Linked DNA regions of Homo sapiens: all the other regions are linked to region 2. The links come from fine-mapping of genetic effects on gene expression. A gene starts in region 2. Each other region holds a variant in brackets. All regions are shown on one strand. Distances are from middle to middle.

Evidence for each region. PIP is the estimated chance that this variant, and not a neighbour inherited with it, causes the effect.
Region 1: its variant is the best candidate, but not a certain one, in a credible set for the expression of FEZ1 in whole blood (INTERVAL, PIP 0.85).
Region 3: its variant is the best candidate, but not a certain one, in a credible set for the expression of FEZ1 in atrial appendage (GTEx, PIP 0.66).
Region 4: its variant is the best candidate, but not a certain one, in a credible set for the expression of FEZ1 in whole blood (INTERVAL, PIP 0.50).

Annotation. Positions count from the first base shown.
Region 1 is chr11:125,468,804-125,476,384 of GRCh38, reverse strand. All of the region lies in intron 3 of FEZ1 (fasciculation and elongation protein zeta 1), which reads left to right. Among named protein-coding and RNA genes, the nearest start is that of FEZ1, 24 kb to the left of the region's middle. The variant C/T (reference allele first, on the strand shown) is at 3,746.
Region 2 is chr11:125,492,344-125,499,924 of GRCh38, reverse strand. It overlaps FEZ1 (fasciculation and elongation protein zeta 1), which reads left to right and starts at 3,660. Exons shown (of 10, transcript NM_005103.5): 1 at 3,660-3,804. LOC403312 (putative uncharacterized protein MGC39545) reads right to left here and starts at 4,711. Exons shown (of 2, transcript NR_164146.1): 1 at 4,310-4,711; 2 at 399-3,417. RefSeq lists a silencer at 3,473-3,722 and enhancers at 3,597-4,098, 4,099-4,602, 5,105-5,608.
Region 3 is chr11:125,394,878-125,402,458 of GRCh38, reverse strand. PKNOX2 (PBX/knotted 1 homeobox 2) reads right to left here. Exons shown (of 13, transcript NM_001382323.2): 7 at 4,397-4,585. Among named protein-coding and RNA genes, the nearest start is that of FEZ1, 98 kb to the left of the region's middle. The variant C/T (reference allele first, on the strand shown) is at 3,010.
Region 4 is chr11:125,559,534-125,567,114 of GRCh38, reverse strand. No RefSeq gene overlaps it. Among named protein-coding and RNA genes, the nearest start is that of EI24, 6.2 kb to the left of the region's middle. The variant C/T (reference allele first, on the strand shown) is at 2,865.

The DNA of each region.
Region 1 (7,581 bases), 24 kb after region 2:
TAATTTGCAAATGTCAACTCAACCATGCATTCTTGAGATACACACAACTTCATCATGATATATTATCATTTTATTTTATTCTGTTTTTCCCCCCATATCGTAATTGAAAGGTAATTGGCATATAATGAGCTGCACATATTAAAGTGAGCAATGCGGTAAATTTTGACATCTGCATATATCTGCGAAACCATCACCACAATCAAGATATTCAACATATTCCTCATCCCTCTCTCTCACCGCCCAATCTCTGGGCAACCACTTATCTGCTTTCTGTCGTTGTAGATTAGTTTTCATTTTCTAGAATTTTGCATGAATGGAATCATGCAATATGTACATTTTCTTTTGTCTGGCTTATTAAACTCAATGTAATTAGGTATTCATCCATGTTTTTAAGTATAGCAACAGTTCATTTCTTTTTATTGTTGAGTAGTATTCTGTTGTATGGATATATCACCAGCGGCTTATTCATTCGCTTATAGATGAACAGTTTTTTTTCTACTTTTTGCATATTTCAAATGAAGCTGCTGTGAACATTTTTCTGTAGGTCTTTGTGTGAACATATGCTTCCATTTCTCTTAGATAAAAACCTATGTGTGGAATGGCTGAGTCATATGGTAGGTGTATGTTCAACTTTTTTTTTTTAGCTTTTATTTTAAGTTCAGGGGTACATGTGCAGGTTTGTTACATAGGTAAATTGTGTCATGGGGGTTTGTTGTACAGATTATTTCATCACCCAGGTATTAAACCTAGTATACATTGGTTATTTTTCCTGATCCTCTCCCTCCTCCCACCCTTCATCCTCCAGTAGGGCCCAGTGTGTATTGTTCCCTTCCGTGTGTCCATTTGTTCTCATCATTTAACTCCCATGTCTAAATTTTTAAGGAACTACCAAACTGTTGCCCAGTTTGAGAGCTGTAATTGTCCCATATTCTCACTAACACTTGTTATGGACAATCTTTAAAATTTAGACATCTTCATGGGTAGTAACAAAATTGATACCTTATTTCAGTTCTAATTTGCTTTTCTCTAGTGACATAGAATATTGAGCATCTTTTCAAGTGATTATTTACAATGTGTGTGTGTGTGTGTGTGTGTGTGTGTGTGTGTGTATTTTTGAGACAGGGTCTTGCTGTGTTGCCCAGTCTGGAGGGCAGTGGCTCAATCTCAGCTCACAGCAACCTCCACCTCCCGGACTCAAGCAATCTTCACACCTCAGCTCCCCAAGTAGCTGGGACCATAGGTGCACACCTCCACACCCAGCTAATTTTTGTATTTTTAGAAGAGATGAGATTTCACCATGTTGCCTAGGATGGTCTTGAATTCCTGAGCTCAAGTGATCCACCTGCCCCGGCCTCCCAAAGTGCTGGGATTACAGGCGTGACTGTGCCCGGCCTGTATGTTTTCTTTGGTGAAATGCCTCTTCAAATCTTTTGTGCATTTTTTTAGTACATTGTTTGTGTTCTTAGTATTGAGTTGTAAGAGTTTCTTTTTTTCTTTGAGTTGGAGTCTTGCTCTGTCACCCAGGCTGGAGTGCAGTGGTGCAATCTCAGCTCACTGCAACCTCTGCCTCCCAGGTTCAAGTGATTCTCCTGCCTTAGCCTTCTGAGTAGCTGGGATTACAGATGCACACCACCATGACTGGCTAATTTTTGTATTTTTAGTAGAGACGGGGTTTCACCATGTTGGTCAGGCTAGTCTCGAACTCCTGACCTTGTGATCCGCCTGCCTTGGCCTCCCAAAGTGCTGGGATTACAGGCATGAGCCACCGTGCTTGGCCATAAGAGTTTCTTATAAATTCTAGATAAAAATTATTTGTTGAATGTATGTTTTACAAATATTTTCTCCTAGTCTATAGGTTGCCTTTTAATTTTCTTAACATTATCTTTTGAAGAGCAAATGTTTTTTAAATGTGATGAAGGCTGAGTGTGGTGGCTCAAGCTTGTAATCCCAGCATTTTGGGAGACTAAGGTGGGCAGATTGCTTGAGGCCAGGAGTTAAAGACCAGACTGGGCAACATAGTGAGATCCCCTCTCAAAAAGAAAAATTAGGCCGGGCGTGGTAGCTCATGTCTGTAATCCCAGCACTTTGGGAGGCCAAGGTGGGTGGATCACGAGGTCAGCAGATTGAGACCATGCTGGCTAACACGGTGAAACCCTGTCTCTACTAAAAATACAAAAAAAAAAAAAAAAAAAATTAGCCTGGCATGGTGGCACGTGCCTGTAATCCCAGCTACTCAGGAGGCTGAAGCAAGAGAATTGCTTGAACCCGGGAGGCAGAGGTTGCAGTGGGTTGAGATTGCACCATTGCACTCCAGTCTGGGCAACAGAGTGAGACTCCATCTCAAAAAAAAAAAGAAAAGGAAAATTAAATGTGATGAGGTCCAATTTATTGATATTTTCCTTTTTATACTTTGTGTTTATGTTGTATTTAAGAAATCTTTGTTAAACCCAAGGTCACTAAGATTTTTTTCTTAAGTTTTCTTCTAGAAGTTTTATAATTTTAGCTCTTGTATTTAGGTCTATGATCCATCTCAAATCAGTTTCTTTCTGTTTTTTTTTTTTTTTTTGAAATGGAGTCTTGCTCTGTTGCCCAGGCTGGAGTGCAGTGACTCAATATTGGCTCACTGCAGCCTCCACCTCCCAGGTTCAAGCAATTCTTCTGTCTGTGCCTCCTGAGTAGCTGGGATTACAGGTGCCTGCAACCATGCCCAGCTAATTTTTGTATTTTTAGTAGAGGCAGAGTTCTACTATTTTGGCCAGACTGGTCTTGAACTCCTGACCTCAAGTGATCCACCCGTCTTGGCCTCCCAAAGTGCTGGGATTACAGGTATGAGCCACTGTGCCCAGCCTTCAAATTAGTTTTGTATATAGTATGGAGTAAGGGTCAGGGCTCATTTTTTAAAATTTTTGATTCCCAGGTTGCTGTTTCCCAGGTTGGTCTTGAGCTCCTTGGCTCAAGCCATCCACCTGCTTCAGCCTCCCCAATTGCTGGGACTACCGAGGCACTCCACAGTGCTGGGCTTCAAGGTTTATTTTTCTGCATATGGCTATTCAATTATTCCAGTACCATTCATTGAAAATCTTATTCCTTCCCCATTAAATTGTTTTGGCATCTTTGTTGAAAATCAATTGATCATGTATGTGCGGATCTACTTCTGAATTCTTTTTTCTGTTTCAATGATATATATATGTGTGTGTCTTTTTTTATCATCCCTAATTTATTTTAAAATGTGTCTATCTTTATGCCAATCCCACACTGTATTGATTGCTGTAGCTTTATGGTAAGTCTTGAAATAAAGTAATATAAGTTCTCCAACTGTGTCCTTTTTTTTTCTTTCCAAATTTGTTTTAGTTATTTTAGGTTATTTACATTTCCATATAAATCTTGGAATCAGCAGATGAATTTTTGCAAAAAATCTTGCTGGAAATTTGACTTTGATTGTGTAGAATCTACAGACCAATTTATATATGTAGATCAATTTATCATGTTAATGTGATGAATTACATTAATTGGTTTTCAAATATTAAACCAGCATTTTATTTTAAAATAAACCCCACTTAGTTATGATATTTTATCTTTTTTATATAATGTGGGATTTGATTTGCCGATATTTTATTAAAGATTTTTGCATCATGTTCTTTTTCTGAAATTTTATTTTGTTCTAATGTCATAAAATAAGTTGGAAATTATCCTCTCTATCTCTACTTTGTGAAAGAATTTGTATTACATTGGTATTATTTCTTCC[C/T]TGAATGTTTGATAGACTATACTAGTGAAAGCATCTGGGCCTAGGGTTTTCTCTGTGGAAGATTTTCAGTTACAAATTCAATTTTACTGAGTCAGGTTTGATAAGTTACATTTCTCAAGGAATTTATCTATTTAATCATTGAATGTATTGAACATTCATTTGTTTATAATTTTGTTTTGTTATTGAAAATGTCTGTAAGATTTATAGTGATGTTCCCTTTTCTATTCCTGACATTGTTAATTTGTGTTCTCTCTCCCTCCATCCCTCTCTCACTCTCTCTTGTCAGCTGGTCTGTGGGATTATCACCTTTATTAATCTTTTCAGAGAACCACTTTTTATTTCTTTGATTTCCTTTATTGTTTGTTAACTTTTTAGTTTATTGATTCCCTCTCTTAGCTTTATTACTTCCTTCCTTCTACTTAGTAGGAGTTTAATTTGCCCTCATTTTTTTAGCTTCTTAAGGTAGGAAATTTGATTATATTTTAAACTTAAAAAAACTTAAAGCTATAAAATTCCCTTTAAGCACTGTTTTAGCTGAATTCTACATATTTTGATTGGGTATGTTTTCATCATTCAATTAAAAACATAGTTTCTAATTTTTTCTTGCAATTTCTTCTTTAACCCATAGGTTATTTGGCAGTTTGCTGCTGAATTTCAAAGTGCTTGGGAGGTTTTATAGCTATCTTGTTAAAAATTGATTTCTAATTTAATTTTGTCAGAGAACATACTTTGTATGACTTAAATCTTTTAAAATACGTTCAGACTGATTTAGGGTCCAGCATATGGTACGTCTTAGTGAATGTAATATATGCCATTGGAAATGATGCACATTCTGCAATTGTTGGTTGTAATGTGCTATAAATGTCAACCAGGTTAACTTGGTTGATAGTATTGTTGAATTCCTGTGTTCCAAATGATATTTTTTGTCTGTTTATTCTATCAATTAATGAGAAAGGTTTATTAAAATCTCCAACCATTGTTGTGCATTTATTTCTATTTCTTTAGTTCTGTTGATTTTTGTTTTATATATTTTGAAGCTCTGAGTACATCTCCCTGATGAGTTGACCCTTTTATCATTATGAAATGTCATTCTTTCTCTGTAATGCTTATCTTAAAATCTACTTTGTTTGATATGAATGTAGCCACTTAAGCTTTCTTATGCATACTGTTTGCAAAGTGTGTGTGTGTGTGTGTGTGTGTGTGTGTGTATCTATCTCAATCCTTTTAGTTTCTGCCTATCTCTGTCTTTTTATTTAAAGTGTGTTTTTGCAGGTAGTGTATACTTGGATCTTGTTTTTATATTCAGTCTGACAATTTATGCTTCTTGATTATTGTGTTTAGTTTATTTGCATAGTGTGTAGTCCATTGACATTTGGCATAATATTGATAATTTGTGTTGGAGCGTATTGTCTTCATTTCTGATTGTCCCATCTGGTTTTGTTGCTGTTTTGTTGTTCCTCTGTTCCACACTTTTTGTCTTCTTTTGGGTTAATCAAATATTCTTTGGCTTTGCATCTTATGTCTTCTGTTGGATTTTTATCTATACCTTGTCGTATTTTTCTTTAGTGGTTTCTCTAGGGGTTACACTATACATTATTAATTAATCATAGTCCATTTAGAATTAATATTGTACACTTTACATAAAATGTAAAACATTTGTCACAGTATAAAGTCTATTCCTTCCATCTTTTGTGCTATAATTGTCATATATTTTATTTCAATCTACATTATATACTCCACAACACAAAGTTATTATTTTTGCTTTAGACAGTTAGTTGTCTTTTAAGAAAATCAAAAGAAGGAAAAAAAAGATACTTTTAAAATATTTACCTATGTATTTATCATTTCTGGCATTCCTTATTTTTTCCTGAAGATTCTGATTTTCTATCATTTCCTTTCAACCCAAAATGCTTTTTATAGCATTTCTTTTGGTGTAGAGCCACAGGTGACAGATTCCTTTAGCCTTCATTTATTTATCTCATTTATTTCATGTTTTTCCCTTCTTTCAAAACACACAGCCTTGCACTGCCTGTGTCCAGTGCCTGAAAACAATTGGCTCATAGATTTTGTCCAGATTGTAGTTGTTTATGGTAGGAGGGATAAGTCCAATACCAGTTACTCTGTCATGGCTGAAAGGGGCCATCTCTTCTGTTTTTGCTTTCTAGAATTCCTTTTATTCAAGTATTGGACTTCTGAAGCTGATCTTCTGAATATTTTTCCCCGCCCATAATTCTATCTGCTTATTTTGTTTCACTCTCCAGGGAACTTTCTCAGCCTTCAGCTCGATGGAAAAGTCTAAATTTTCTATCATACCTTTAATTTCTAAGAGCCCTTTCCAGTTTTTACAGAATTTGTGTGTTTTTAAAATTTTTTTCTGGTCTTAGTAAGTGTACATCTTTGTAGTTTTTAAATGAATTCTGATAAATAGGACACATTTTGAGGAAGCAAGGTGTTCTGTTATCCTTCTGAAGGCAGGTATAGCAGTTTCTTAGAAGAGGTTTCTTCTGCTCTCTCTGTTGCTTTTGATTTCTCTTCTCTATACATTTTCATCTTTCATGTTGGGGGCTATTCTCAAATGTCTGGCAATCCTTGAGCATCTTTTCATATTTAAAAGTGAGGCTTTATGGCCAGGCATGGTGGTTTACTCCTATAATCCTAGCACTTTGGGAGGACAAGGCAGGGGGATCCCTTGATCCTAGGAGTTTGTGACCAGCCCCATCTCTACAACTCTACCAAAAAACAAAAACAAAAAAAACAAAAAGGTAGCCAGGGGATGGAGTGCACTTGCAGTCCCAACTACTTGGGAGGCCAAGGCAGGAGGATCACTTGAGCCCAGAATTTTCAATACCAGCCTGGCCAACACAGTAAGACCCTGTCTCTACAAAAAATTAAAAAAAAAAAAAAAAGCATTAGCTGGGCCTGGTGGCATGCACCTGTAGTCCCAGCTACTTGGGAGGCTGAGGCTAGAGAATCGCTTGAGCTTAGGAGTTTGAGGCTACAGTGAGCTATGATTACACCATTTCACACCAGCCTGGGCAACAGAGCAAGCCCCTGTCTCTAAAAACATTAATTTTAAAAAAAATGGCTGGTGATAGCTCACGCCTGTAATCTCAACACTTTAGGAGGCCGAGGCAGGTGAATTGCTTGTGCTCAGGAGTTTGAGACCAGCCTAGGAAACATGGCAAGTTCCCCATCTCTACAAAAAATACAAAAGTTAGTTGGGCATGGTGGCATGCGCCAGTAGTCCCAACTACTCAGGAGGCTGAGGTGGGAGGATTGCTTGAGCCGGGGAGGCAGAGGTTGCAGTGAGCTGAGATCAAGCCACTCCCCTTCAGTCTAGGTGACAGAGGGAAACCCTTGGAAAAAAAGAAAGTGAGGCCCTAGAAGGCTATGGGGTCAGGGCTTGTTTCCTGCTGGATCACAGTGCCAGTAAGGACCTATGCGTCTTGTTCGGAGATCTTGACAGTTGGCATGTATTTGTAGACTTATAGCATCCATAGAGAGGTGTTCTCCAATGGCTTGATGGACAGAATAAACCAGCTGCCAGTGTCCTTGGAGCCTACTCAGGGAAGGAGGCCAGAGGTCTGTCTGGTGAGTCATTCTGTAGAGTCTTACATCCTCTCTCTGTTTTTGGTGAGAACCCTCACCCTCACTTTTAGGTGGCCTGGTGCTCTGAGTCCAGAACCTCCAGTTCAACCTGCTCAGAGTGAAGTCTACAGTCCTTTTGAGCTGAGAGGATGCAGTCCCTTTTTATCTGGGTTGGAAGAAGACACTTGGGTCTCATTATTCTTGATGAAGAATACCAGCAAATCTTCCTTACATAGCCCCGCCATGCT
Region 2 (7,581 bases):
TGGGGTTTCGCCATGTTGTCCAGGCTGGTCTCGAACTCCTGACCACAGTTGATCTACTCACCTCCCAAAGTGCTAGGATTACAGGTGTGAGCCACCATGCCCAGCCTCCTCTCCTCTTCTTATAAGGACACCAGTCATTGGATTTAGGGCCTACCCGAATCTAGTATGACCTCATCATAACTGATTACATCTGTAAAAGTCACATTCTGAGGTTCTGAGTAGACACAAATTTTAGGAAAATACCATTCAATCCACTGCAGGTTCTAAGCAGCAGAGTTTGGAAATCAACATACTAAACATGGAACCTCTTGAAAGCATGCCTTCATTTTTAGCTCCCCAGCTTCTAGCCTAGGTCATGGAATGCAACCAATGCTTGCTGGAATTTGTACACCGATGTTGACAGCAGCATTATTTTTTTATTCTTTCTTTCTCACTCTAATCCCATGACAGATTAGTAGCATTATTCACAATAGCCAAAAGGTGGAAACAATCCAAATGTCCATGGGCAGATGAATAGATAAACAAAATGTAGTATATACATACCATGGAATATTATTTACCTTAAAAAGAAAAGAAATTCTGACATTGTTGCAACATAGATTAACCTTGAAAACATTGTGCTAAGTGAAATAAGTCAGATACAAAAAACAAATATTGTATAATTACACTTACATGAGGTACTTAGAATAGTCAAATTCTTAGAGACAAAATTAGAATAGTGGTTACCAGGGGCTGGGGAAGGGAGTACTGGGGAGTTAGTGTTTAATGGATACAGAGTTTCTGTTTGGATAACAAAATTTCTGTAGATGAATAGTGGTGGTGGTTACACAGCAATGTGAATGTGTTTAATACCAGTGAATTGTACACTTAAAAATGGTTAAAATAGTAATTTTTATGTTATATATATCTTACTACAATAAAATAAGTGTTTGCTGGAAGAATAACTGGGCTCATGTTCAGGGATTTCTCATCCTAGGTACCTAGCCTAGGCTACTTGTCCTCAGCTTTCAGTTTCTTCATAGCCTCACAAAAATAACCACAGAATCCACTAATTGGTTTCTTATTATATGCCAGGCACTGTGCTAAGCATTTTGCATGCATTATATTACTTAATATGCATAACAACAACCTTGTAGTAGATATTGGCATCCAACAGCAGATATTGGCATCTCCATTTTACAGATGAGAAAACTGAGGTACAGAGAGGATAACTAACAAGGTCACCAGCTGAAGACCAAGTTCTTTATCACTTTCAGTACTTCACAAGCTTCTCTCAAATCTGTTTGTCCCATGCTCTGAAGATCTAGACAAAAGATGGCCTCAAATTAGCCAAGACATATATATATATACATATATATACACATATATATATACACACACACACATATATATACACACACACATATATATATACACACACACATATATAGGACATCTATATGAGACATATATATGGGACATCTATATGAGACATACATGTGGGACATCTATATGAGACATACATGTGGGACATCTATATGAGACATACATGTGGGACATCTATATGAGACATACATGTGGGACATCTATATGAGACATACATGTGGGACATCTATATGAGACATACATGTGGGACATCTATATGAGACATACATGTGGGACATCTATATGAGACATATATGTGGGACATCTATATGAGACATATATGTGGGACATCTATATGAGACATATATGGGACATCTATATGAGACATATATATGGGACATCTATATGAGACGTATATATGGGACATCTATATGAGACATATATATGACATATATATGTGTGTGTGTATATATATACACACATACATACATATAGTGCCTTCTAATAAACCTGGAAGTACTTTACTCATATTCACTCCTTTAATCCCACAACAGGCCACAATAGAGTGGGGCACTATTATTTTCTTTCTTTTTTTTTTTTTTGAGTCGGAGTCTCGCTCTGTCACCCAGGCTGGAGTGCAGTGGCGCAATCTCGGCTCACTCCAAGCTCCGCCTCCTGGGTGCACGCCATTCTCAGCCTCCCGAGTAATTGGGACTACAGGCGCCCGCCACCACGCACAGCTGATTTTTTGTATTTTTGGTGGAGATGGGGTTTCACCGTGTTAGCCAGGATGGTCTCGATCTCCTGACCTCGTGATCCGCCCGCCTCGGCCTCCCAAAGTGCTGGGATTACAGGCGTGAGCCACCGCGCCCGGCGGGCACTATTATTTTCTTCATTTTACAGATGAGGAAATGAGCCACAGGGAAGTTAACTAACCCAAGGTCACAAAACTGGGCATGATCCCAAGAAAGGAGATCTAGGGATCTTTTAACCAGCTACTCTTTGTGATTTATTTATTTATTTATTTACTTTTGAGACAAGGTCTTGCTGTCGCCCAGGCTGGAGTGCAGCTTCAACCTCTTGGGCTCAAGCGATCCTCCCACCTCATCCTCCAGTGTAGCTGGGGCTACCAGGATGGGCTACCAGGATGGGCCCACCATGCCTGGCTAATTTTTTTTTTTTTATAGAGATGGGGTCTCACTATGTTGCCTAGGCTGGTCTTGAACTCCTGGCCTCAAGTGATCCTCCTGCCTCAGCTTTCCAACATGTTGGGATTATAGGTGTGAGCCACCGTGCCTGGCCTTATGATTTCTTACAGGAAGACATCCTCTGTCTATTGCTCCCACAAAGGCAAATAGGCCAACGCTTCTTCTCATCTCATTGGGACATTATTCCTGTTTCCATCCTTCTCATGGTTGAAATGTCTGTGGAATGAATGCATAAACGAGCAAAAGAGACGCTCCCTGCCCCTTCCAGTTGAAGTCCTCAGTTCAGCCCAGAGGTACTTTGCCATCAGACAAAAGTACTTGGGGTTCTCCAAGCCGACATGCTTTTTCCAGTGCCTTCCTTCGATAATTACAGTTCTTGTGCTCTTAGTTGTGTGTATTCGTGAATTATTAGATTTTTTATTGACAACTTCTATAAGCACAGGCCTATGCACAGTAGACAAGATAAATTAATAATTTTTCACAAGACTCCAGGGACCCTTCTCATTTCAGCCTCTTGAATTTTCCTGTATTATCTCAAGTCCTCCTGGGCCTGAAACCTTCTCACTCAGATTTTTCAGCTGGATCCAGCTCCCACCCAGCATCTTTGGGCGAGAAAAGCTCTCCTGCCGGCCTCCTCATTTTTGGCTTGAGGTCCGAACCCAGTTGGAGCTGGGAGACGTCGCTGGGCCTGCCCGCCTCAGCCTCCAGTAGAGGAGAATGGGAAACTCGGAAAGTCCAAAAGGGTCTTTGAGTGTGTCTGCCGGCATCCGCCAGCAGCCATCGCCTGCATTTTATCCAGAAACTAGTGTCAGGCTTTGCGAGGTATCCATATTGGTAGTTATTGCACGCTTTCATCTTGGAGTTTCTGAATATTCATGAGGGAAGCAGAAAGGCCAATGTTAAAGAGGAGAGAAACAGAAATGCATAAATATTAATAAAGGCAAGCCCACGTGCTCGGAGGAAGGCTATGAATGTTAACGAGGGGATGACGTCCAGCTCCCGCGCGTGCCAGTTGGGTGGGTGCCCGAGCGCGGGCGCGCCCCCGGAGCCCGGGCACGAGCGCGGGGAAGGGGTGGGGTGGAGGCGGGAGCGGAGCCGGGCGCCGCCGGAGCTGCGCGGGGAGCGCTCGCTGGCTGGCTGGCTGGCTGGCTCTCCGCTGCGCTGCGCTGCGCTCCGGCCGCTCCCGCGGCCCGTGGATGGGGGTGTCCGGCTGAGCCCCGGGATCCGCCTCCCTCCGCCAGGACCCGCACAGGTGCCGTCGCGGGGGTTGACTTTAGTTAGGACCCGACTCACTGCTGGGGGTGGGGTCTGGTGGGGGTGGTAAGGAGGCCCCGGGATTCTCTGACAGGACGGTCTGGGGTCGCCGCAGCTCCCCTCACCTGGTCCCATTCTGGGATTAGAAAGGAACAACGGGAGGCCGTCGCCTTCCTGCCCAGCCCTTCAGGGAGCGCAGCTGGGACGCCGCGCCAGGCCCTGGAGATGTGGGATGATGGGCACTTCCAGTATCATCTCAGCATCGGCCCTCCAGCCAGGCCTGGTGTGTGTGTGTGTGTGTGTGTGTGTGTGTGTGTGTCCGCGTGTGTGTGCCCGCGTGTGTGCGCGCGTGTGAAGGCAGGGCGGCGAGGTATGGGGGCTGGGGGAAGAAGGGAACGCCGCCCGATCGCGCTGGGGCAGTGGGTCGGTACCTCGTCCCGGGACCGTTATCTGGTCCAGTCACCGTAAACGCCCCAAGATCATCTTTGTCCCTAAAAACTTACCCCCGACCCCGCTCGTGCCCCTCCCCAGAGTGCGGAGCCTTCCCCAGACCGCGCATTCCTGCAGTGTCAGAACCGCTGGCAGCGGCCGCAGACGCCGGGAGAGCGATTGTTTTACTACAGACGGGCGGGAGAAGGGACCGGGGCGGCTGCGCGGTGGCGGGGCGCGCTGCCGTCGGGTGGGCCCCGGGCTCTGGAATGCGGGGAGCAGTGTTTGACGGCGTCGAGGAGGTATCACAGCCCGCTCTTCTTCCCTTTTGCCTATCCCTTCTCTCCTCGCCGCTAGGCATCCCCGACTCTCATCCCTCTCCCGTGTCCGGGCTTGTTTGGCCGGAAGGGCAGTGGAGTGTGTATGCGGCCTGCACGGGATGAGTCCGGCTTCCTCAGAGTGCCAGCCATTGTGCTGCCTGGAGGAGGCTTTCTTTACCCCACCGGACTGGGGGGAGGAGGGGGATCTGAGATGGAGGTGAATGGAGCAGCGGGAGGAGGGGGAGGGGAGCAAGCAGAACCGCGAAGGGGTTGCTGATCCATATGCAACGAAATACTTTTTCTGTCAAAATGTGCACAAACATGCACACTGGGTGGGTTCTGCGGAGGAGCAGTGGGAAATCTGAAGGTGGATCAGTGCAGGGTAGGTTTTAGGGACGGATATGGGGGACGAGGCACGGAATCAGTTGATCTATGGACCAAGTGATGGGAAGAAGGAGATGGAATGGGGCTTGTGTGGAGGTGCCGAGGCCCAGCGGGGTTAGCGTGGTGAAATCTCCACCGCTCCGCTCCACTCGGGTCAGCTCAGCAAAGCAGGGACTGAGCATTTGTACCGCAGCCCCGAGATGCAGCGAGTGCATCATTGTGCTGCAGGGAGACGTTTATGCGTTTCCTACTGGGTCTCTGTTAAGCCCCGTGAGTGTCTTTTCTTTTCCAAATTACACCATCTATTGGGAGTGAAAATAAATGGAATAGATTGTAGGACAATCAGACTATAGTCCTGCGCTCTGTTCTGTGGTAAAGAGAAAAAGAAAAGGCGACCCTCCCATGGTTCCTTCTTTCTGCCATTTTCATGTATGTACGTATTTATTTTTGATCTTGGAAGTCTAAAGGGAATAAGCTATCGCTTGTATTAATCCTACTTTAAGGAAAAGAAGGCTCCCAGATGAGCTATGAATGAGGATGGTGCAAGCTTGCCAGGATGGAAAATAAGGTTGTTTCAGACATTTTAGTTGAAGGATGAAAGCACTCCGTGAAGAGAGGAGGGCGAAAGAAAGTGGGCTAAAGGAAGGAAGGCAGGGTCACCATCTAAGGAAGTGCTGCCAACCCCAATCCACAGAGCCCTCCTGGAGGCTATAGTGGGGCCAGTCAGAACGCCTGACTCTCATCTGTGCCACAGCCTGAGGTCTTTCCACAAATGCTGGATTCAGTTTGGGTGTTGAGTGACTAGTTTCCCAGCACTGGCTTTCACTTTAACTTCATCTCCAGATGGTCATTCATGCAGCACTTCTTGGCTCTTGGATAATGAGTTGACAAAAAACAATCAGTCTATATTATGGACTGTTTCAAATGAGCATGTGTCTGAACCCTAGAGCTGTGATATTCATTTCGTCTTTTATAATTTTCTAGATGAATCCATTTTCTCTACACTCTGCCTGGGCAGAGTGCTTTCAGCACACTCTTCCTGTTGCCAACACTCAAAACTCAGTCTTAGTCCTAGATTCTGGTTGGATTGGCCTCTTGTTGCTGGTTAATCATATAGACTGTGTCATTTCAAATCAGAAACCCCACTGGTGTCACCATCTGCTTCTCCCCTGTCATTCCCAGAGAAAAGTACAAATTTAAAGGCAGTGTAAATACCTGCAACACTATCGGATTGGCTTTCATATCTCTGTAAAATGGAACCCACGATCCAGGAACCTTTGAACAAATAAATTGAAAAAAGAAGCCTTAGTAAAAAAGATGCTAAAATTCTTTCAGCAATAGTTCTCTTGTTTGATAAGCATATTGAAGCATTGCACAGAGAATATCATGGCAGGGATAATTTTTCTTTTACTTGAAGCACTCCCACATCACCTTTCTTTCTTTCTTTCTTTCTTTCTTTCTTTCTTTCTTTCTTTCTCTCTTTCTTTCTTTCTTTCCTTCTTTCCTTCTTTCCTTCTTTCCTTCTTTCCTTCTTTCCTTCTTTCCTTCTTTCCTTCTTTCCTTCTTTCTTTCTTTCTTTCTTTCTTTCTTTCTTTCTTTCTTTCTTTCTTTCTTTCTTTCTTTTCTCTCTTTCTTTCTTTCTTTCTTTCTTGAGATGGAGTTTCGCTCTTGTTGCCCAGGCTGGAGTGCAATGGCATGATCTCGGCTCACTGCAACCTCTGCCTCTTGGGCTCAAGCGATTCTCCTGCCTCAGCCTCCCAAGTAGCTGGGATTACAGGCACCTGCCACCATGCTCAGCTAATTTTTTTTTTTTGTATTTTTAGTAGAGACAGGGTTTTGCCATGTTGGCCAGGCTGGTCTTGAACTCCTGACCTCAGGTGATCCACGCACCTCAGCCTCCCAAAGTGCTGGGATTACAGGCATGAGCCACTGTGCCCAGCCCCCACATCACATTTCTATGTAAGTTAGCTATCCTGGTTTTCCTAGAATTATTTTTAACTTTTTTTTTTTTTTTTTTAAAGATAGGGTCTCACTTTGTCACCCAGGCTGGCATACAGTAGTGTGATCATAGCTCACTATAGCCTCAAACTCATGGGCTCAACCAATCCTCCTGCCTCAGCCTCTCCAGTTGCTGGGATTACAGGTGTGAGCCACCGTGCCCAGCTTTGATTTTTCTAGAATGATTGATATTTATTGGATGCTTTCTATATTCTGCACATTGTACTTAACACTTCAAAGATGATCTCATTTAGTCCAAAAAGTAATCTTCAAGGGAAGCACTGTTTTAAACTCCATTTTATAGATGATGAAATTGAGGCACAGTGAGGTTGATAACTTGCCCAAAGTCTCCCAACTAGGAGTGACAGGACCAGGACAGGAACCCAAAGCCTATGCTCTTAGCCATCACAGAGTACTGCCTTAATCAACACAAATCCCTGGGCTGTGAAAACTGTTTTACTCTCTACTGCATTCTGCCATCTTTTCTAATCTCACTTTTTTGTTGCTCAGGGATTCTTAATCTTTTTTGCACTATGACCTCCTTTGGTGGTATGGAGAAGCCTGTGGGCTCCTTCTCCAAATAATGTTTTTAAATGCATAAAATAAAATACTTAGTCTTGTAAAGGAAACCAATTTCATTGAAA
Region 3 (7,581 bases), 97 kb after region 2:
CTCCACAGAGAAAAAAGGATGAATTTCAGGTCAAACTAATACTTGAGTGAGGTGTCTCTCTAGTGGAATGGTTCCATTTGCGCCCTCTAGGAAGGACAGGAGAACCCAGAGTAGGGTCTAGAACCAGTCTCCTTACAGAGGATCCTGCCCCCACAAGAAGCCTGGGCTCTGAGGAGTAGGAAGCCTGGGTGTCATTGGGTGCCTGCAGCACAGGATGGGTTCCTAGGGAGGGGGAAAATCTAGCTGTGGCCCAGGTCTTTGAAAGTCTGCTTTAGTCCCCTGCTTGGTAGAACAGTCTCCCTTACTTCCCATCTCCACTTTGCCCAGCAGAGAAGACTCACACAGAGAAATCGAAGGCCGAGCAGGAAAACGCTCAACCCATCGATCTGGATGGAGGACACGGCATAGCATCTGGGAGTGGGGATACCAAGTTGAAAACAAAAATGTCTCCCGCTTTGCAACACAAGGCTGGATGATTAGCACACAGGGAAAACCATGAGCCAGCAGTTTGCAACAAAGCTGGCAGGCGGCTGGAATGTTGATCCAGAGGATCATGTTCCAGAGGGGAGACACCCCTCCCCAGGCCAGGCTGGTGCTCAGGCTATTTCAGGCCGGGGGGATTAAGGGTGAACCATGACGAATGCATGTGCCCGCGTGTGCACACACATACACACACACACACACACACACACTCACAAGCTCCTTTTCTCTCTCTCATACAGGCTCCTGTGTCTTGAACCCAAGACCTGCCTCCTGCACTGAAAGTCTCGGTCCCCGATTCTTAGCAGCCCTGGGCCTCTCCTTCCTGGGAGAGCCCATGCAAGCCCGGCCCCTACCTTAGTGCAATAATGACAGGGGCCTGTCCTGGGAAGGCTTAAGAGACGTGTGAGTGTGCAAGTGGGCCGAGGGATGGCCAGAGAAGGCAGGAGAGCAGGTTAGGAAGCTCCTGCCATAGCCTATGTGTAATTACCGTATTTACCCCTGAAGCCTGAGCAAAGCAGGCAGTGGCAGTCAGAGAAAATGCAGGGGCAAGTTTGAGTAATACAACAGGAGCAGCACATAGCACATCCTCCTGACTTTCCCGCCTCCTCGTACCCTGGCTGCGCACTGAGCCACATGCATTGTCCTTTCACTTGCTGTCACTCTTGCTGCCGTTCCTCTCTCCGTCTGTCCTTCTGCCCCGTCGTTCTCAGTATCGTCTCCCTTTTCCTGGGTTTGTGTGCCTCCCTGTCTCTCTCTCTTGCTCTTTTCCTCCAATTCTTCAGCCTGTCTCTGCTTCCCTCCTGAATGTTGACCCTGCATATTTGGCTTTCTTTCCCTTTATTTTTCTTCCTATTTCTCCTTTCCTCCTTTGGCTTCCCCTTGCCCCTGCCCCCCACCCAACTTTCTTTCTCTCATTCCATTATTTCTTTCAATAAATACTTCCCGGCCATCTTTCTTGCACAAGACCTTGTGGTAGCCACTGCTGGGGTCACAGGGAGAGTACACTAGGACTCTGAAGGGATGAGTCTATTTCAAGAGACTATCAGCAGGCAGAGGCTGGAAATGGCTGTTTTTGGCCTATAATAAGGTGATTTGGTGATTTCAAACATGTAAAATACTGTCTCTGCTCAAAAAGTGTTATCTAGGATAGGAAAATGAGATGAACACAGGGATCTATAATATAAAGTCACAGTGACTTTTGCCATATCGATGGCTCAGCAAGCTCCACCAGTTAGTGGAGTGCAGGAAGCGTCCATTCTGGATGGGGCATCAGGGAGTCCTCCTGGGTGAGCAGCCTTGTTCCTACCCTTGGGGAAGAAGCTGGGTTTGGTTGTGCAGAGATGATGGGGTTGTGGGGGAGGTGTCACCCGAACAGACAGGCATGGAGTGATGGTTACAGCACCTTGAACAGTCAGATTGGCCCACCCAGGAAGGCTGAAGCCAGACCTAGGAGGGCCTTGAATGTCAGGTGGGCAGATGTGAAAGCCCTCCCTTCCACCCCCAGGGGCATGGCAAGCAGGGTTTCTGAGCAGGCGAATGACATGAACAAAGTTAGAAAGATGAATCCAGCAGCAGAAGCTTAAGAGATGCATGGGTGTGCAGGTGGGCTGAGGGATGGCCAGGAGAGCAGGTTAGGAAGCTCCTGTCATAGCCTATGTGTAATCACCGTATTTACCCCCGAAGCCAGAACAAAGCAGGTGGTGGCAGTCAGAGAAAATGCAGGGACAAGTTTGAGTAATACCAAGTAGGAATACCTCACTAGTGTCTTTTCTCTTTCTCAGTGCCTCGCTTGCATCACCCCCTCCCCCACACCCACCACGCAATTGTCTGATTCCTCTTTCCCAGCTGATCAATGGCCTTTCTGCCGTGGGTACCCCAGGGCCAGCCTCACTTCCAGGCAGAGATCTGATGCTTCCAGTGATAGGAATCAAAATTCTTCTGTCTTTCCTCAAAGCTCAGAAGGCTGAGTGCCGGGATTCTCCAGGGGGACTGATTTTTGCAGGTGGCAGCATCTCTGAGAACTTAACCATCCAGAGTCCGCGTTATCCTTTTCTGCAAACCCCACTTCTCCAGTGACCGACTGGTTTCTGCAGACCAACTTGTCAGTCTCAGACCTCCAACCCTGAGGGGGCTGAGGTGGCTGCTAAGCCCTCTGCCCCTCCTTCCTTCCCCCACTACCCTGGTGCACCCCCAGCTCCAGAGCTCGAGGTGGAGTTGGAGGGCCCAGGAGGGGAAATCCAGTGCCTCTCCAAGGACCTGATTATTTCCAAAGACTTGTGCTAATTTTCTGATATGATCCTCACATCTCTGTGAGGCACTAAATCCTCATTACTTTTCCTGACCGATGCATTCTAATTAGATCAACACTTAAAAAAAATTCACAATAGCCACAGGATGGCTTTCCATCTCATTAACTCCTCACTTATTATTTTCATGAAAATTACTGATAAAAATGTGCATCTCCATTTGGCGAGGCCTCACAGCCTCCTCAGCTCCTATCTTGCATCTCTCCCATCACCGGGACTG[C/T]GCAGCGTCACCATGGTAACCCACAATAATAGAAACTAATAAATTACAAACGAGATGCTCGTTGAGCAATTATTGTCCTCTTTTATGCAAGTTTCTTGCTAATTTTGATCATAAGGGAAAGTACAATAAGACTCTGAAGGAATGAGTCTATTTCAAGAGAATATTAGCAGGCAGAAGCCCGGGCGGGTGTTTTTAGATCTGTAATAAAGTGACTTGGTGATTTCAAGCGAGAGGAAGAGGAAGTAAACTTCTTGCCCTATGTCCTGGGCAGTACTCACTACGGAGTCTCACAAAGAGCCCACTGGGGTGGGTTGGATGTGATACCGAGTGTATCTTTTGTGCTTGTTGTCAAAATGTGCAAAGCAAGGCTGGCCTTCTAGAAGTCAGCCTGTCCCCTCCCCTGACTCCACCAATCTGGGGAGATAGAGTACATGGGTGGTTCCTTAGGGGTCTAGGGACAAAAACGGCACAGCCTTTCTTTGGCACTACTTCCAGCACCTCTCGGCACTCACTCCTAGAAAGTTTACCTGCATCCCCATGCCTGATTGTTTAATGAGAAGAGGCTACAGAGGACTCCTTGGGGACCCTCCAGGTGTCTTCCAGGACTCAGGAGCTCAGTGGAAGGGGAACAAAGTCTCAAGCCTGTGGCTTATGCAGATGTCTGTGAGTTGGGCGGGAAGGTATTGCCAGGCAGCTTTCTCGGTTTGTAGGTTTGGGGAAAATATCCTGCCCTGGAGGGGAAACCCCATCTTGCCCAAAGCGTGTAGTCAGCATTTCTGCATTTCCCAGGTCTCAGGAAGGAGGTGGCAGGGGAACCTGGGAACAGGGTGGTTTGAGGTGACCTTGACCATGGCCCTGAACCTTAGGGGGACAGAGATGCCAGAGTAGCGTGAGTGCCTGGAGAATGATTAGGGAGCAGCAGGCCCATGGGAAGCTGGCTTCACCCATTAGGTGGGCAGGATTCAGGGAATGACTGCTTTCCCCAAATGCCCTTTCCCAGAAATGCAGATGGCTCAGCAAGCCGCAGCCTCTTAAGAAGCCTGTCCCAGCTCATCCTCCAGGAGAGCTTTCCTTCTCCTTAGCTCTGGTGCTCATTCTGGGGGATACCTTGGGCCAGGAAGCCAGGAATGATTTTGGACATTGTCCCTCTCCGATCTGGTCATTTTCAAGGGAATACTAATGCCCTGGCAGGGCAGACTGTGTGTAAAAAAGGGATGGGATGGCCTAATGGATATGAAGAAGAGTGCATCAGAGGAGGGCCCTCATGGCAAAGGAACCCAGTGGGTCTAACCCAGTGAAGGTCACCAGGGGACCTTCCTCCACGCGTGGCTCCAGAGCTGGGCTTAGGAGCCTGGCTTAAGAGATGGGACCCAGCTCTGGGTGTTACCTGTGAGTGAAGGTTGATGGAGGGCTGGTTGGGGGAGTAGGGCCCCCCTAGATCATTCCTGAGCAGGTTGTCGCTGTGCATCTTGGTTTTGAGGCAGGTGATGTAACGGTTACAAAAGTCCTTGCAGAGTTCATTGACTTTCTCCAGCTCCAGCAGGTGGATTCTCAGGACCTGGATTGCCTTCACCATCTGTGGAGAGGGAGGAGAGGTGAGCCCAGGTGTTTGCATCCCATTTCCCTCACTGCCTGGACCCCCAGCCCCCACCACCCCAGGGGAGGGGAGCCCACCCCCTGCCGTAGCTCATGCTTCCTACACTTGATCTTGGCCAAAAGGCCCAGAAGTGGTAGGCGGTGCCTTCTCATCCCCATGACTTCAGTTCTAATGATGGCTCTCTGCTAATTATTCCTTTGCTCTGAGCCCTCTGTTATCACAGCTGTTCTTGAGGCAGTTGTGGTATTCTGAGAACAGCATTGGCCTTAGCGATGGGAGGCCAGGTCCAAGCCCCCGGCCTGTCATTTACTATCTGTGTGAGCTTGGGCAAGTTGCTCAAGCTCTCTGTGCCTTAGTGGCTAACAAATGGGGATAATTAGATTCTCCCTGACAACTTTACAGGTTTGTTGTGAGTATTGTATGAGGGCGTATACATGGTAGCACATTGTGAGGTGTGAAGGACCAGGCAAGCCTGAGGAAGATGGAGATCAGAATTTCTTATAAGTGCCTCTAGAGCTCAGGGACTGTCTATTCTTAAACAAGCATTCTGAGTGCCTCATGGGATACCGGTTACCTTGTGGACGCTCTGTGGATACTTGCTGATGGACTGAATAATCCAGCATGACTTAGCTGGGCACCAGCTACCTCACTGTCTGCTGTGGCCTTTTCCATGCCCTTTGGATTGCTGTACGGGAGCCTGCTGCCTCTTCAAATGGACATTCCTAACCTTTTCGTGGCAAGAAGCTATTTTGCAATTGAAGCTTTGCTCTTTACTGCTGTTATTATCATAAAAAGAAAATACTATGGAAGGTATGGAAAGCAGGGTGAAAAAAACCTGTCTTCGATCCAATCGCCTTAAAGAATGATTTTTTCCTACACCCATATATTTTAACATAGTTTCAATAACCTTGTGCATGCAATTTTGTTTTCTGTTTTTTCCCTCTAGTTTAGCAAATCTATTTTTCTAAGTGCCAGAATTGTTTTCTCTATCCTCTCTTCTAGACTATGAGCTTTGAGAAGGCAGGGATGATGTCTAATTTGCTCACCATGTTATCTTCAGCACGAACACATATGGATATGGAGTAAACATTTGCTGAATGGGTGAAAGTTATTGAGTAAACATATTTTTAAATGTTGCATATTATTTCATGTGTGTGCCATACTTAACCAGTCTCCTATTGTTAGGTATTTAGATTACTTCCAATTTTTCAATTTTATAAAAAATGTTACAGTGAATATTTTCTAAGCTTATAGCTTTTTTTTTTTTTTTTTAAAAGTTTCTGCATTATTCTTTAGGATGAATTCCCAGAAGTGACAGGAAAAAAAGCTATGAACGTTCTTGTGGATTATGATAAATATTGCCAAATTGCTTTTCAACAGGGGGTTGTTCAAATGGTGCTAGAATAATTAGACATCCACATGCAAAAAAACTGAATCTTGATTTAAACCTCATACCTTAGATGAGATTAACTCAAAATGGATCAAAGACATAAATGTAAGACAGAAAACTATAAACCTCTTAAAAAAAAACAGGAAAAAATCTTCAGGATCTAGGGTGAGGCAAAGAGATCTTAGAGTTGACACCAAAAGCATGATCCAGGCTGGGCACAGTGGCTCACGCCTGTAATCCCAGCACTTTGGGACATCGAGGCAGGAGGATCACTTGAGGTCAGGAGTTTGAGACCAGCCTGGCCAACATGGTGAAACCCCATATCTACTAAAATTACAAAAATTAGCCAGTGGTGGTTGTGCATGCCTGAAGTCCCAGCTACTTGGGAGGCTGAGGCAGGAGAATCGCTTGAACCCAGGAGGTGGACGTTACAGTGAGCCGAGATGGAGCCACTGCACTCCAGCTTGGGCGACAGAGCGCAACTCCATCTAAAAAAAAAAAAAAAAAAAGATGATCCAGTGAGGAACTGGACGCTGTCAAAATTAAAAATGTTTACTCTTCAAAAGACCCTGTGAAGAAGAGGAAAAGACTACATACTGGAGGAGAATATTTGCAAACCAAGTACCTGACAAAGGACTTGTATCTAGGATATATAAAGAACTCTCAAAACAAAACAGTAAAATAACAAGCAACCCAATTAGAACATGGTCATAAGACATGATTAGACATTTCACTGAAGAGGATATACAGATGGCAAATAAGCACAAGAGAAGATATTCAATGTCATTAGTCACTAGGGAAATGCAAATTAAAACCACAATGAGATATCACTACACACCTATTGGTATGGTTAAAATAAAAGAAATAAATATGACAACACCAAATGCTGGTGAGGAACTGGAGACTAGAACACTCAGACATTGCTGTTAAGAGTGTAAAATGGTACAGCCACTCTGGAAAACAGTATGACAATTTCTTACAAAACTAAATATGTGCGTACCATATGACCCAGCAATTGTACTCTTGGGCATTTATCCCAGAGAAATAAAAACATATGTTCTTACAAAAACCTGTATACAAATTGTTCAAAGCAGCTTTACTTCTAATAGTCAAAAATCGGAAACAACCCAAATGTACTTCAATGGGTGAATGGATAAAGAAACTGTAATTCATCCATATCATGGAATATAACTCAGCAATAAAAAAGAATGAGCTATTGATATGCCCAACAATGTGGATAGATTGCAAGGGAATTTTCCTGAGAGACAAAAGCCAGTCTCAAAGGATTATATACTATATGATGCCATTTACAAAACGTTTTTGAAATGACAAAATTATAGAGATGGAAGACAGAAAGACAGATTAGTGGTTGACAGCGGTAGAGTGGAGGAGGGAGGGAGGAACTGTTCTGTACTTTGCTATAACAATGTTTATGTGGATCTAAGTATATGATAAAATTGCACAGAACTAATTACATGTACACACACACACACACACACACACGAGGGCACGTAAAACTGGTGAAATCTGAATACAGTTGGTGGATTGTTCCTGGCTGTGAAATTGTGCTATGGTTATACAAGAT
Region 4 (7,581 bases), 67 kb before region 2:
CCACAAACCAATCTGCACATACTCCCCATCCTGTGCCTATAAGGACCCCTGACTTAGTCAGTAGAGTGGGAGACCGCCTGACTTTGAGGAAGACGACCTGCCCTTCCTGTCCCTTCTCCAGCTCCCCTCACTGCTGAGACTCGTTTTCATCACTAAAAAAAATTCTCTGCCCTCAACATCCTTCTTTGTTTTTTTCTTTGTTTTTTTTTTTGAGACAGAGTCTTGCTCTGTCACCCAGGCTGGAGTGCAATGGTGCAATCTCAGCTCACTGCAACCTATGCCTCCTGGGTTCAAGCAATTCTCCTGCCTCAGCCTCCTAAGTAGCTGGGATTATAGGCACCTGCCACCACGCCCAGCTAAGTTTTTGTATTTTTAGTAGAGATGGGGTTTCACCATGTTGGCCAGGCTGATCTCAAACTCCTGACCTCAGGTGATCCACCCACCTCAGGCTCTCAAAGTGTTGAGATTACTGGCGTGAGCCACCGCACCTGGCCCGCCATCCTTCAATCCTGCATGTGACCTCATTCTTCTTGGACACTGGACAAGAGCTTGGGACCCACCAAGTACAGGTACCCAGAAAGGCTGTCACACTGGTCCTTTGCCCCCACCAGTGGAAGGCAGCTGCCCCACGTGACAAGGCAAAGGGCCAACTGAGCTACTAACACACTGCTGTTTGTGGATGATGAAACTAAAGGAGCACTGTAACACCCGCTCTGAGGCTTCAGGGTCATGGGCACTTTCACCTGGGCACTGCAGTGTTCCTCTTGAGGCAACATGCCTGGTCTGGCCACAGGCCCCACACAGAGCTTGCTCCTGTGCCAGTGCCCAGAGTGGCTGGCTGGATCTTGAACTTGCTTGCTCATGTGCTCCCTCCTGCAAGTGGTTGATTGTGGTGGGCCTGGTAGACAAGGCGCCCCCTTCCATGAGTTTGTCAAAGGGGCCAAGAAAAATCCTGCATCATTAGGGGCCAGATCTCCTAGCTTCCAGCCTTGGAATCTTCTAGGAGAGAGAGATACTATGATTTATTAAGCATCTACTATACCAAGCCTTTTATATTTATTATTTCAACAACAATTTAAGTGTTGTAATGAAAAATTATCACTATTTTTTTTTGTTTTTGAGATAGAGTCTCACTCTGACACTCAGGCTGGAGTACAGTGGCATGATCATGGCTCACTGAAGCCTTGACCTCCTGGGCCTAAGCAATCCTCTTGCCTCAGCCTCCTGAGTAGCTGTTGTAGCTGATTTAAAAAAAAATTCCATGCCTTCCTATTAAGAAAAAAAAACTCCAACCAGGTTTGTCTAACGCCCGATTCCACACCCTTTCCTCTACCATATTTGTGTTCCATTATGGATCACAAAAGTCTTCTCATTTAAATTTAGGTTGTGTATTGTCATTATTAAAGTAGTGCTCCTCTTTGTTTTGCCTGTGGTTGCTAAAAGAAAAAAAGAGAGAGAGAAAGAAAATAATGAAAGTGTTGGCCAGTATGGTGGCTCATGCCTGTAATCCCAGTACTTTGGGAGGCAGAGGCGGGTGGATCACCTGAGGTCAGAAGTTTGAGACCAGCCTGAACAACATGGTGAAACCCTGTCTCTTCTAAAAATACAAAAATTAGCCTGGTGTGGTTGTGCACACCTGTAGTCCCAGCTACTCAGGAGGCTGATGCAGGAGAATCACTTGAACCTGGGAGGTGGAGGTTGCAGTGAGCTGAGATTGTGCCACTGCACTCCAGCCTGGGCACTAGAGCGAGACTCTGTCTCAAAAAAAAAAAAAACAAAAAAAAACTGCCATTCCTCATGGGTCTTACAGATGCAACTCCCTGCTGGGAACTCAAGCCCTTTTTTTTGCCAGGAAAGGTAAAATCATCTGGGGGTAGAACCAAAAAATGTACAGGTTAATAGAATTATGAAATTTAAGATGTTTAAACAGGGTTTATGTAACGTAGTTGTAATCTCTTTGCCTAAATGTCTTATGAAAATGGGTATTGTATCTAGCTGGAGGATGCTTCCCCTATCTAGTACTATAAAACCAAAGACATGTAAAGCTGCTCTTTTGAAAAGTGTTAGTTGGACATGTTAATGGGAAATAGTAAAATCACCTGAGCCCACAAAGTATCAGGTAGAAGCTAGAGTACTAGTTGGGACAAATCATCCCCTTCATAGCCCTTTGTGGAGTGTTTATTGGGGATAATGGCAAAAAACAAAACAAAACAAAAAACTCTTATAAGTACTTCCCAATGACAACTACCGGACTAGAGAATTTCCACTTGAGGTGCATTTACTGCCTTGCTATGAAATGTTAACTGAAGCTACCCCTATGCTAACTGAAATAATGATGCCCCAAAGAGTTCCATGATAAAATAAAATCTTGCCACCTGGGGATACAAGGAGGAGATACTCATAAGCAGGGAGCCGCTTTCTCCCTAGGACTGATTCTAACTATGTATGTGAGGAGCTGCTAAATTCTGCAGTGCCTGATAGACAGCTTTCATGAGCTGTTTGGCTTACGAAGGGCATTTCCAAGGTAAACAAACATCTTGTTTGAAACTCCTGACCTCAAGTGATCTGACCGCCTTGTCCTCCTAAAGTGCTGGGATTACAGGCCTGAGCCACCACACCTGGCCAGGAACAGCAAATTTGATAAGGCTTCTCAAACAGTCCTATGATTTTGCAAGAGGGAAACTTATGTAAAAGGGGACCTCTTAACCCCCAAATTTCCCATGACCTGGGTAATAGGCATCTTCAGTGGGAGGATATCCCAGTTATCATAAAGCCAGTCATTGCTCTCATATGAAGCATATTATTCAATAACTGCTTCATCTGGGGTGCTTCACTTGGTATTTTATAGGGAGAGCTGGGTAGTC[C/T]GCTTCACAGGGCAAACAGACCTTACAGTGGCATTTATCTGGTCTGCTAGCTGATCATTCTTTCAGGAATAACCTCCTGTGCATTTAGATTACATATACTTATCAGTGATTGTTCAATAGTGAGCTGTGGGCTCTGCATTAACCCAAACAAGTTCTTCAATTCTGTAGCATTTAAAATTAAGGATTTTGTCCATAAATTGTTTATTTTTACAATCCACTATAGTAAAGATTTTTTAAGAAGCTGATGATACCAATCTACAAAATGGAACCATTCCTTTACATTATACCCTCTGGGTTTGTTTTGTTTTTTGTTTTGAGATGGAGTCTTGCTCTGTCACCCAGGCTGGAGTGCAGTGGCATGATCTTGGCTCACTGCAACCTCCACCTCCCAGGTTCAAGCGATTCTCCTGCCTCAGCCTCCCAAGTAGCTGGGTCTACAGGCGCCCACCACCACACCCAGCTAATTTTTGTATTTTTAGTAGAGACGAGGTTTCACCATAATGGCCAGGCTAGTCTTGAATTCCTGACCTCGTGATCCGCCCACCTCGGCCTCCCAAAGTGCTGGGATTACAGATGTGAGCCACTGTGCCCAGCCTATCCTCTGGTTTTGATAGTTACTTGGTTTTGCCTTTCACCCACATCAACTATCTTCTTGGAAGCCACAGGTCTCTGAGATAAACTTATTTCCCTGTCTTAATTTGTGTTTTTTTTTTTTTTTTTTGAGACGGAGTCTCGCTCTTTCGCGCAGGCTGGAGTGCAGTGGCGCAATCTCGGCTCACTGCAACCTCTGCCCCCCAGGTTCAAGCGATTCTCCTGCCTCAGCCTCCCAAGTAGCTGGGACTACAGGCATGTGCCACCAGGCCCGGCTAATTTTTTGTATTTTTAGTAGAGACGGGGTTTCACCGTGTTAGCCAGGATGATCTCGATCTTCTGACCTTGTGATCCGCTCGCCTCAGCCTCCCAAAGTGCTGGGATTACAGGCGTGAGCCACCGCGTCCGGACCTTAATTGTTTTTTTAACCATTACTTTTACTTGTATACTTTTTCCTTCAGCTTAAAGTGACTTTTCAATTGTTTCTTAACTAGAAAGAAACACACTTTTTGTTTTTTGCAAAATCCTTATCTTTGTGTTTTATAAACTTCGCCAAAAACATTTTTTATGCTCCATTTTAATTTAGTAACCCAAATTTCCTATGGAAAAAAAAATCGAGGTTTTAACATAATATGACTTAAACCTTTTAAATTACTGGAGACAGTTTTGAGGTTAAATTTAACAAATTAATTTTACCAAAGATTACCAAGATCATGTGAATTAAAAGTGTCTGAGCTAATTTTTACTAATCTGATAAGCATTTCTTTTCTTTTAAGTCAATTGATTAGCTCTTTTATGTAGTTTGGTAGTGATAAAAGAAAAACTTTAGCAGAAATAAATTTAAAGGAGTTTAACTGAGCAAGGAATGATTTGTGAATCGGGCAGCCTCCTGAGCCAGAGTAGGCTCTGAGACTTCAGTGCAGCCACATGGTGGAAGAAGATTTATGGACAGAAAAAGGAAAGTGACATACAAAAAACGAAAGTGAGGTACAGACAGCTGGATTGGTTACAGGTTGGAGTTTGCCTTATTTGAACACAGTTCAAACAATTGGCTACATTTCATTGGCCAAAACCTTGTGATTGGCACAACTGTAGGCTACGGTCTGTTTACACCTCCACTTGTTACAGTTCACGATGTACAGATAAACCTTTAGGTTCAACTTAAAATATATAAGGAGGCAGCTTTAGGCTAAACTTTTTTTTCTTCTTGTCATACTTTAGTAGGCATAGGCTAATCTTGATTTAAAAATTCCCCACTTTTGGTCATCTTCTCAATTTTGAGAGATTGACCAAAACTTCAGTCATTGATGTCACTAATACCATCATAAATGTACTTATTTGGTCTTGAAACCCACTGGGAAATAGTAGAACAGCAGGTTTTGTAAAGTAGGAACAAAGACTGAGTAGAGGGTACCTCCTTAACAAAGACTGAGTAGAGGGTACCTCCTTATGCCTGAACATCCTGTTTATAGGAGAAAAATAAAACCTGGTCTGGTCTAGAACCTATGTGTTTTCTTAAAGTCTTAGTTTGATTATGTCACATTTAGCATGAGTAACTCCATTTTGGTTTGGTCTGGTCCACTGGGGCCTAGTTCATGAGCTCAGTCCAAAACAATGGCCTCCCATAATGTTGTTTTAAAATTCCCCCCTTTCAGTCAGGTTCTTACTTAGGTGAGGGTGTGACCAAAACTTAGGGCCTCAGCACCACTCTCAGTTACCATCATTTTGGGTTTCCGGTCTCAGCACATCACTTATAGGTTACAGTGTCCTTATGGTCAGACATTTCTTTCAGCTCTTGAAACTGTAGTTGAAGAGAGACCATTTGACATTCTAGAGATGGCTGCATGCAAACACTTAAAATCTTTGAGAGAATACAGCACACCAGAGAGACTACTATTATGACTATCAGGAGGCTAACACCAAGAGTATGGAGTATGCTCCTTACCAATGGTCTCCATAAACCAAACCACGTAAAACTAAATAGATCAAAGAATGAGTTAGATAAAGAGTCTACTCACGTAACTAAGCAGTCTCTTAATTAATCCCCTGCAACTGAATCTCTATAATGTACATTTGAGGTATTTCTCCATAGACCACAAGTGCCAGCAGGTGCACAGATACTTCTGTTTAGCCAGTAAGTAATCTAGAGCAATACTATTATTTAGCATAACTTTCACAAGAGAATTTAAAGTCTGTTGCATAACCATGGCCTTTACAGCAGAATCTGCTATAGAGCCTATCATGAGGGATACATTTCTAATCATTGCCTCTTTTACTCCAAACCGTCGAAAAAAGGACCTAACAAATGATGTCCTTCTAGAAGAGTGAAGGCCTCCTGGCAATATTCTCTTTAACCCATGATGTGGGTTAAGAGTAGTGAACCAATGTTCTGTTTCTGGCTGACTGTGAGGCAATGTATGTATCGTTAAAGTTTCTCAACCTACGTTGGGCTTTCATCTTTCATCTATCAAAATGTAAGGTTATCTGTGTATAAAGCTGGCTACAAAATCCCTGACAAATAAAAGTATACCCCATAAGTGCACAGAACAGACCCCCTTTTCACCTCTATTGTCTATAGAGGCATAAGCAAAGGGAAAAATATTCAAAGATAAATATTCTACTATCTCATGATAGTAGAGAAGTCTTGATTCATGATCTTGGGAAAAGCTGTCCACATCAAGGATGCCATTTTCTTAGGAGAAACTTCCCAGGTTAGCTTTTCCTTAAGGGTTCCAATGGGTGTACAGTTCCAAGAGTGTAGAGGGACCCTTCTTGGTTGTGAGATTGTGAACCCAAAGTTCAAGGTCCCAAAGTTTTGCTACAGTGTAGATGGCAAGGGCAGTGTTTTTCTGATGTTCTCAGAAGATCCAGTCTTCAGGTTCTAGATTATGAAGGGGTTGATTGTACTCAGTCAGTGAACCATAAAACGCTTTCTTTACCTTGTCAAAATACACTATGGCATAATAATCTACTATCATAACATTAGCTCTCTTGCATAGGAAAGCTTTTATACAACTAGAAAACGTGAATTGAAAATGACAATTGGCCAGGTGTGATGGCTCACACCTGTAATCCCAGCAATTTGGGAGGCCAAGGTGGGTGGATCACTTGATGTCAGGAGTTCGAGGCCAGCCTGGCCAACATGGTGATGGTGAAGATGGTGAAACCCCTCTCTACCAAAAATACAAAAATTAGCTGGGCGTGATGGCAGGCACCTGTAATCCCAGCTACTTAGGAGGTTCGGGCAGGAGAATTGCTTGAATCCAGGAGGCAGAGGTTGCAGTGAGCTGAGATCATGCCACTGCAATCCAGCCTGGATGACAGAGTAAGACTGTCTCAAGGTAAAAAAAAGATAATTGGATGAAATCCCTCTATAAATGTTTAAGTGGCCCGTCAGGTAGCAAAATTTACCTATAGCTTTGATCGTCTTTCCAGGAATATGGCTTTGACAAATGAAACATTAGTCATAAACTATTTTAGCAATTTAGAAGTCACCACACCAATATATGTTTAATTTGGATCATTTTATCTTTTCCGTGATGAGTCATGGAATGCAGAACTTTTAATAACAAGAGCTTTAAGGACTCAGGAAAGACAAGGCAGCCATCCCAGTTTTCCATGAGTCCATGCTTAACATTGAACATATGCCTTCTTGAATACCAGTTGTTTCTCCAATTTAGGAGCATAGCACTAATAACTGATGGGTTATCATAAGTAATTTGACTTAGACCATGGAGTTCATTGTGTATCTACACAATTTTAGTATTGGCTGATTTAGCATGAAAATCTGGCAAAGTATTTTCTTGGTATTCAATTAATTTTTGTTCTACTTTGGTTAGCAGTTTTATAAACCAGTCAGTCCTTTCATTACAGTTCCAGGAATTCTCACCCAGTCTAAATGATATGATTATGAAGTTGTCAGAAACCTGTATTCAAAAGTGCTTTTCAGGGTCTTTTCCATCCTTTCCTGAACTTCCTAAAATACATCATATTATAGGCTTTTGTGTACTTGTGAAGTTTTCAGAAGCTGCATCTGAATTAAGTAATTAACTGTGGAAATTACTTTACTTTTATATATTTATTTTTGAGACACAGTCTTACTGTATTCTCCAGGCTGGAGTGCAGT